Linked DNA regions of Homo sapiens: region 1 is reported to be linked to region 2. The links are microRNA targets in miRTarBase. Many come from high-throughput screens and were not tested one by one. Region 2 holds a microRNA gene; the other region holds the end of a gene's coding sequence.
The links. Region 2 holds the annotated microRNA hsa-miR-7159-5p (UUCAACAAGGGUGUAGGAUGG, at 1,819-1,839, shown strand). A microRNA usually pairs through its seed, bases 2 to 8, with sites in the 3' UTR of a target mRNA and lowers its output. Matches are read on the target gene's strand: a 7mer-m8 pairs with bases 2 to 8, a 7mer-A1 pairs with bases 2 to 7 and ends in A, and an 8mer does both.

Region 1: the mRNA of TRIM17 is a reported target of hsa-miR-7159-5p. The part of its 3' UTR that is shown has no 7-base or 8-base seed match.

What each region holds. Positions count from the first base shown.
Region 1 is chr1:228,404,824-228,408,823 of GRCh38, reverse strand. TRIM17 (tripartite motif containing 17) reads left to right here. Exons shown (of 7, transcript NM_016102.4): 7 at 73-889. The coding sequence ends at 623. TRIM11 (tripartite motif containing 11) reads left to right here and starts at 1,989. Exons shown (of 6, transcript NM_145214.3): 1 at 1,989-2,670. The coding sequence starts at 2,263. RefSeq lists enhancers at 427-1,086, 1,278-1,327 and silencers at 1,678-1,747, 1,888-1,977, 2,038-2,277.
Region 2 is chr6:33,897,317-33,901,316 of GRCh38, forward strand. MIR7159 (microRNA 7159) reads left to right here and starts at 1,819; the gene lies at 1,819-1,884. All of the region lies in intron 1 of LOC105375026 (a long non-coding RNA gene), which reads left to right.

The DNA.
Region 1 (4,000 bases), not on the chromosome of region 2:
CGGGGACTCCCACCTTTGACCCTGAATGCCCCACACCTCTCCCCATCTCTCCACCACCACGCCCATCTACAGAGGATGTGGTGCCTGATGCCACCTCCGCGTACCCCTACCTCCTCCTGTATGAGAGCCGCCAGAGGCGCTACCTCGGCTCTTCGCCGGAGGGCAGTGGGTTCTGCAGCAAGGACCGATTTGTGGCTTACCCCTGTGCTGTGGGCCAGACGGCCTTCTCCTCTGGGAGGCACTACTGGGAGGTGGGCATGAACATCACCGGGGACGCGTTGTGGGCCCTGGGTGTGTGCAGGGACAACGTGAGCCGGAAAGACAGGGTCCCCAAGTGCCCCGAAAACGGCTTCTGGGTGGTGCAGCTGTCCAAGGGGACCAAGTACTTATCCACCTTCTCTGCCCTAACCCCGGTCATGCTGATGGAGCCTCCCAGCCACATGGGCATCTTCCTGGACTTCGAAGCCGGGGAAGTGTCCTTCTACAGTGTAAGCGATGGGTCCCACCTGCACACCTACTCCCAGGCCACCTTCCCAGGCCCCCTGCAGCCTTTCTTCTGCCTGGGGGCTCCGAAGTCTGGTCAGATGGTCATCTCCACAGTGACCATGTGGGTGAAAGGATAGACACAGACCGGGGGACTCGGGCACTGCTCCTGGCTCTGCAGAAGGTGTGGGCCTTCTGCTTACTGCAGGCCACCTGCCAGGGTTCTCTGGCATCACGCTGGCAGCCATTAGACACACAGGGGGGTTTCTCAAATTCTAAATATAATTGTGATTAGAACTGTCAAACATTAAGAGGGTATACTGACAGATGCTTCCTAGAGGAAACTTTTGAAAGCCCCTGCGTTCTGAGTGGACCGATTTCTAAATCCATACCTACACACCAGGAACAGCGTGGTCACGTTTTTTTTAGCCATGCCCCCACCCCCACTTTGGAATGACAGGAATCTGTGGCTCCCAGCCCCCCCAGGGGTTTAGGTTACTCTGTCAAAGAAGTAGAAATATCCTATGGTGGGGAGGAGCGGGGGTGGTTGCTGTGTCAGGGATGGTCCCAGGCTGCCCATAGAAATGTCCTATGCATCCTATTGGGTCCTTCGATGGGGGAAAATGGGAAAGGCTGAACCCGTAAAAAGCCTCAGAGCTGCCCACCCCCATCCCGTTCGATCCCCAAAGTTGCACGAGCAGGGGCAAAATCCCAAAGAGATTAGGATTTATGTAGGGGCCTCTTTTCCACAGCGCCCTTACCTTTTCCAAGGAACCCCCCACCCACCCCTGCAGGGTCAAGCACTTTAACAGCCTGTGTCAGTCACTAGCAAGGCAGAATTCCAGAGTAAGCGTACTCCTACCTCGACAAAGCCGGAGTGTCTGCGCGAGGGGCTGCCTGGAACAGCATGCCCCTTTGGAGTGGTTCCCGCAGAAAGAATGTGGGCCTCCTGGAGAGCTGGTCCTGGAGGGATGCCCCCGTCCCATCCCCCAACTCCAATCATTCTGACCTTGGCCTGCCAAGGCTGTGAGGGCCGGGCCTTCCGAGGATACCCGCCCTGGGAAGCACGGGCTGAGGGGGTGAGGACGCACTAGGGGTATGGCGAAGGGCTCCAATGCCCCAGGCTGCGGACTCCCTTAGTCCTTGCAGTTGCTTCCGTGTGCCCCGCCCTGAGTCCCCATCCCTCCTTGCCCTGCCCCCTGCTCCATCCCTCCCCTGCGCCCCGCCCCCTGTCCCCATCCCTCCCCTGCGCCCCGCCCCCTGTCCCCATCCCTCCCCTGCGCCTGAGTCCTCCCCAGGGCAGGGGTAAAAGACCTGGCCACAAGAACCGGAGCGGTGGTGACGCCAGGTCAGCAAGTGAAAGCTCTCCAATTCCGTCCCGCCCGCGGGCCGCGTGACTGGCAGCGGCCAATCGGAGGCAAAAGCGGGTTGTTCCAAAAAAAAAAAAAAAAAAAAAAAAAAAAAAAAAAAAACACACAAAACCCACCCAGTCGCTTCCTGCTTCCGCCTCGGCTCCTCTTCCTGCCGGCATCCGGGATCCCTACGTCCCGCGTCCCCCGAGCGCTCGGAGCCTACGCGCCCAGCGCTACCGAAACCCAGAGTCCTGCGCCCTGGAGTCCCCGCGCCCCGGAGCCCGAGCACCCGGGAGTCCCGAGCCTCGCGCCCCGGAGTGCCCGAGCCTGCGCCGCCGCACCCGGATACCCCGCGTCCCCGCGAGCTGCCGAGGCCGCCCGCCGCCGCCCCGCGGACAGTACCGCCTTCCTCCCCTCTGTCCGCGCCATGGCCGCCCCCGACCTGTCCACCAACCTCCAGGAGGAGGCCACCTGCGCCATCTGCCTCGACTACTTCACGGATCCGGTGATGACCGACTGCGGCCACAACTTCTGCCGCGAGTGCATCCGGCGCTGCTGGGGCCAGCCCGAGGGCCCGTACGCGTGCCCCGAGTGCCGCGAGCTGTCCCCGCAGAGGAACCTGCGGCCCAACCGCCCGCTTGCTAAGATGGCCGAGATGGCGCGGCGCCTGCACCCGCCGTCGCCGGTCCCGCAGGGCGTGTGCCCCGCGCACCGCGAGCCACTGGCCGCCTTCTGTGGCGACGAGCTGCGCCTCCTGTGTGCGGCCTGCGAGCGCTCTGGGGAGCACTGGGCGCACCGCGTGCGGCCGCTGCAGGACGCGGCCGAAGACCTCAAGGTGCTCCTGGGCGGGGGTGGCGTGCAGGGGCGTCGGGGAGCCGGGGACTGGGGAGGCCTGGGCGGGTGGGAGGTTTGGGGGACTGCTCCGGGAGTAATCTGTCTCTGTCTAGGGCGGGGAGCTCAGGATGCAGCCTGCTGTGGGCCTGTGAGGGGGGTGTCGCGCAGGGTGGCTGTGGGGGCTCATGACACAGCCTGTTTCAACCAGGCCCCTTGAGGCTGGGACCATGGCCGCCAATGAGACCCTGCTCTCGGGGGTGAGGGGCGTACCTCTCATAGATAGAGGCTAAGAGAGGAAGGTGGAAGGTGGAAGGTGGTGGAGTGGGGGCAAGGAAAATGTGGCCATACCCTGGCCAGCAAGGAGCTGGAATCAGAGGAAAGTGGGAGAACCTCAGAGGTGGCCGATCCTAGATGGACTCCCTGCAGGGACTGTGTTAGCAGGTCAGTACTTAAGTCCTGGGAAAGCCCCAGACTGGGCAGGATGAGGGGGACACAGTCGTTTCCTCTCTAACCTCCCCTCCAGGGCTGCCCTGCATTTCTGGGTGGGGTACTGGGAGCCATCTCTGCCATCTGAGATGCCAGGGCTCAGCCTGCCTTTTCTCCCCTTGTCTTGCTGCTTAAAACCCAAATAAAACCCGAGCTGAAGGGCCTGGGGCACACGTTCCCTGGCCTGCGCTCCCTCCCGCTGTCCTCTTTCCTCGCTGACCTGCTGCAGGTGTGCTCCTGGGAGCCTACGTGTGGGGCAGATGGCAGCATCTTTGGAGCTTTCTTGATTGCACTTTGTGTGTTGCATCATGGTCACTTGTGTGTGCCAGATGAGCAGTTAAGGCAGTGTTAGAATCAGTACTGAGCTTGATCTGTCCCTATCACAGAGCAAACTTCTGGGATACTAGAATAAATCTGAATCTGTCCCCTTCTGCTTTGGATTTTAGCAGAAAGGTGGTTTAGAGCCATATCCGTGGGCTTGTTCAGACACAGATTCATTTGGGTTTTCTTTTCTTTGCCCATGCAGGAATGTCTACACCTGAAACATGTTAGCCCAGCAGAATTACCCTTGTGACACCAATTACCCCAATGGGTGCAGAGAGTGCCCAATAGCTCTATAGAGTTGACTCGATATAGTTTCATGGGATAGCACTTAACCCTTTCTTTTGCAGGTGAAGAAAAAAATTTCCCTCTACCCTGTTAGGTTCAGTGGCTCAGGGCTGCAAATTAAACTGGCACAAGACAAATTAACAGGAAAAAAAATCATACAATTTGATTAATATTTTAAGTTTCACATGCACAAGAACTTCATAGAAAAGCGTATTTCAGCAAAGGTTTGTGAATTG
Region 2 (4,000 bases):
TGTAGGAGCACAGGCTTCCAGTGGCAGGGAAATCTCCAATTGGGTGTGTAGTAAAGACTTAAACCTGTTAAAATAAATTGATTAGCCAAAGATCTCTGCTCAGTGCTCTTTAAACTCTAACATCTGTTCCCAGTAAATAATTCACATAGCAGATATTAACTAGGAGGCTTAAAAGGAGGAGATGGCAGCTTAAAACATGCACTGAGATGCCTCTTTGCCTAAGAAATGCACACCCAAACCCACACCCAGGTGTTAAGGAAAAAGTGCTGATGGTGCTGCTTCCTCCCTCTGTCCCTTGTTCCAGGCTGCACACCTGGTCCTACCCCTGTCCCTAGTAGGCTGGCATCTTCACAGCTCCTTCCTCCCACCCCAGGACAAGGGCCCCTGGAACACTGGCCCGCAGCCACAATAAGGGTGTCCATGGATTCCTAGGACTACAAGTGGTGGAAGGCAGCCCCTTCTCCAACCCTCCCTGTCACACATACACCCTCCCCTGCAGCAGGCAGACAGCTCTTGTTTGCTGAGGCTCTGCTGGAGTCCTCCTTACCTGTCCCTCACCAAGGGACAGATGCACCTCCGATAATGGGCAGAAGTTGGGTGTCAGTGATGGGAAGATTCTAGACCACTCCCTAGGAGATAGCCCCTTCTCTTCCCTTAAGCATCTCCCTCCCGACTTGGTTTTCTGGATATTCCAAGAATATCCTTTTCCTTGCCTCCTTTGCTCAGCAGTTTCCTGCGGAGTTCCAGTGTCTTCAGCAGATCACCATTGCTTTCAACTTTGGAAGGAGCAGGCCTTCTGGGGACACCCAAGACATTCCTGGGCAGAGTAGGTGGCTAGCTTCTCCAGGTAGGGCAGCCCAGCTCCTGTCTGCATGGAGTTGGAGCTGCCACCACCAGGCCTGGTCAGGGGCCCAGGGTAAAGCTAGTTCATACTGTCTTTTCTGGGTGAATAGTTCGAGCTCACTGAGACTACCTGGGAATTGAGAAGATGCACAGGAAAAGTACTTTATACCCTCGGATGTCTACTCTCTATCAAACATTGCAAGAGTTTTGTAAGGACAGGGTGGCCTGGCTCCACACTCACTGGCAGGTGCTGCCCTCAAGGGGCTGCTCCTCCTTTCAGGTAGAAGAGGGTTTCTCAGGTTCTGCTGGTGAACCAAGGTCGCTGAGTACCATCTTCATTGGCACTGTAGCCCGTTTGACCCAAGGCTAGAATCCAGCCCGGGCGGGGACAATGCTTTCTGGCTGGCACCCAAAGCAACAGGTGGGAGAGCTCTGGTGGGAGTCATGTGTCTGCCCAGGTGAAAAGATTCCAGAAATTACCCACACATCATTTTCTCCGTGAATTACCTGAGCATTAATTCCTGAAAGCTTTGATCTCCAAAAGGGCCTGGCTTGATTCTTTCAGAATCTCTCAGTGCTATGTTATTGCAATAGCCATTTTCCTTCTGATCAGAGGTCATTGGAATAGAACAGAACTGTATGGAGTTCTCTTGGATTGAGAAGTGGAAGAGTCACTGTGCACTCTCTTATTCCACACTTTCAGAGCCAAAATCCAGAAAGAAGGGGCAGTAACCCTCATAGGTACTTCACTCCTGGGAAACCCCCTCTTCACTAGAGGTTGAGTCAGAGACCTAGTGAGTTCCTTGGACTCCCGCAGGCAGGGCTTAGTGGTTGGTGATCAGTGCGGATGGGCAGGAGGGTGGACTAAGCAGAGTCACAGTGGGCTTACTAATCTGTGCAGGGCTGCTGTGGCATGGGGGTAGAAGCTAGCTGGCTTCATTTTTGAAGAACTTTTAAGTCCATGAGACTCCGGCTTTCAACAAGGGTGTAGGATGGCCAGGGAAGTATGCCGGGCCTTGGCATTTCTATGTTAGTTGGAAGGATCAGGCTCGAGGCATCTAAACACAGACTTGGGCAGGTGCTGTGAAGAGAAGGACCATCTAACATTAGAAACTTCAGTGGAGGTGGTGAAGGATATGCAGTCTCCTTGGGGATAGAGGACAGAACTTCTTTCCTAGGGCGGAAAGGAGGGGGTCCCTTGGCTGGAGGGCAATGTGGCCTCTCTGGGCAGAGTGGGTTGTCCTTGGCTGGAAGGAAGGCTGAGGGGTAGCTGGGATGGGGCTCCAGACTCGGTCACATGTCCTGTCATTTAGAATGGCAGCTGTGGAAACCTCCATCTGACCAGTATTTGGAGAGACTTTAGATGGATGATGGGCTCAGTGGCCGATGGCCAAGTTAAGTGGCTCTCTTATCCACAGGGATCAGCATTTCTTAGCCTCTATTGAGAGGTGCCCTTACTCCAAGAGCAGAACACATGAAGTGAATGAGAAACTAGAACCCTTCCCCATGCATCCAGCAAGAAAGCATTGCCTGACACACATTCCCGGACATGGTGGGGGCATGCCTCTGGAAGCCAGAGGTGGGCTTAGCTAGGCAAGTGTGGATTGGTCAAAAGCCAAACTGTCCTGACCCTTGCCTGTCCCCCTTGCTGCGACCCAGAGGCTTACTTTCTCTCTCCAGTTACTGGTAGGAGGCATCTGAGTGTCCAGCTAAGGGTAAGCATGGCATCTGCAAAGGCAGAGTGTAGGGCTATAACCATGTAATCAGTGAGAGAGGGGGTAAAGGCCTCTGCATCCTGCTTCTTCTCCATCAGTGCATGCTGAACCCAAGGTCTCCTGGTCTCAGAGGGGCCAGTGCCGGGAGTGAGTGCTTTCCTGTTGTTATTTCTAGATTGGCTAGAAATGCAGGCAGGGCCAAGAGCACGTGTCTCATAAATACACGTTCCTCTCCCCCACCGCCTACCGTCCTACCCCGGGCTTCCCAGACCTCTTCTCAAGGCCTCTATGAAGTGCCTCACGGCCCTCTGGCCCAGGCCTGCTGTAGCAACATGGAGAGCTCTTCATCGTCTGCTTCATCTGATCAAACCCTGCCCTCTGTTCAGGTCTCAGTTCCAATGCCATTCCCTGGATAACACGTTTCCTTCAGGCAAGGCAGCTGCCAGGGACATGTCTGTGAGCCACTCCCTCATAGCACCCAGCACAATTTGAAACCCAACATTGATTTGTGTGATTATTTGATTAATGTCTCCCTCGCCTCCAAGACAGACCTCACCTAATTGAGCTGAACATCTTTCCCGGCCTCTGGCACTTAATAGGTACTCAATAAATATTTGTAGAATGCATGAATGCCAGGGTCGATGTGAGTTCTCTCCTTTTCCGCACACTCACCTGTGTAGCCCTCGTTCATTGGGCAGTTGGTTTGGATGACTTGGCTGCCCTGTACCACGAGGCGAGGTGGCCCAGGGAGAGAAGAGGGATGAGGCGCAGAGGGAGTGGGAGGCCCGTCTGACTGTCATGGGCATAAAGGTGACGGGGGAGGAAACCCAGAGAAACTTACAGAACAACAGTGAAGGGCTGGCAGAGGAAGATGGCCCAGTATCGGGGGAGGGGGAGTGAGAGGAGGTTCGAGAAGAAGACCAAAGGAGTAACGTAACGAGAAATGTCTGTGCCATTGCTGGGGGCTGGGGGCAGAGTTGGAAGGGGCGGGCAGGGCTGTTGCTGCAGATGCCACGAGGGAAACGTTATTGGGTGCTGGCCCAGGTGTGGGCAGAGGCACCCTCGAGGGCTGAGGTAAAGTGCACACCCAGCATAAAGAAAAGGGAACCGAGGGTTTTAAAGCTGGTGCAGCCTTTCTGGAGGGCCATCTAACAAAAAATATTTAAATAGAAATAAAAAGCAGAGCCATTTTTGAGACTCTCTCCAACAGAAATAATACAGAACGCCATGAGGATAAGCATAAAGGGATAGTTGTGGCAGCCTGGCAGTGTTTAAAAACACGGGGAACAACCTGAGTGCCTGCTAAATGGGGAGCCCTTACACTCATGGCACATCCACAGAATGGGGTGCAGTGCAGTCTCACAGAGTGTGGCTGGGCATGTACACTGATCTGATGTGGAACCATGTTGGTACATGGCTTGAAATGAAGCAAGCTGCAGAAT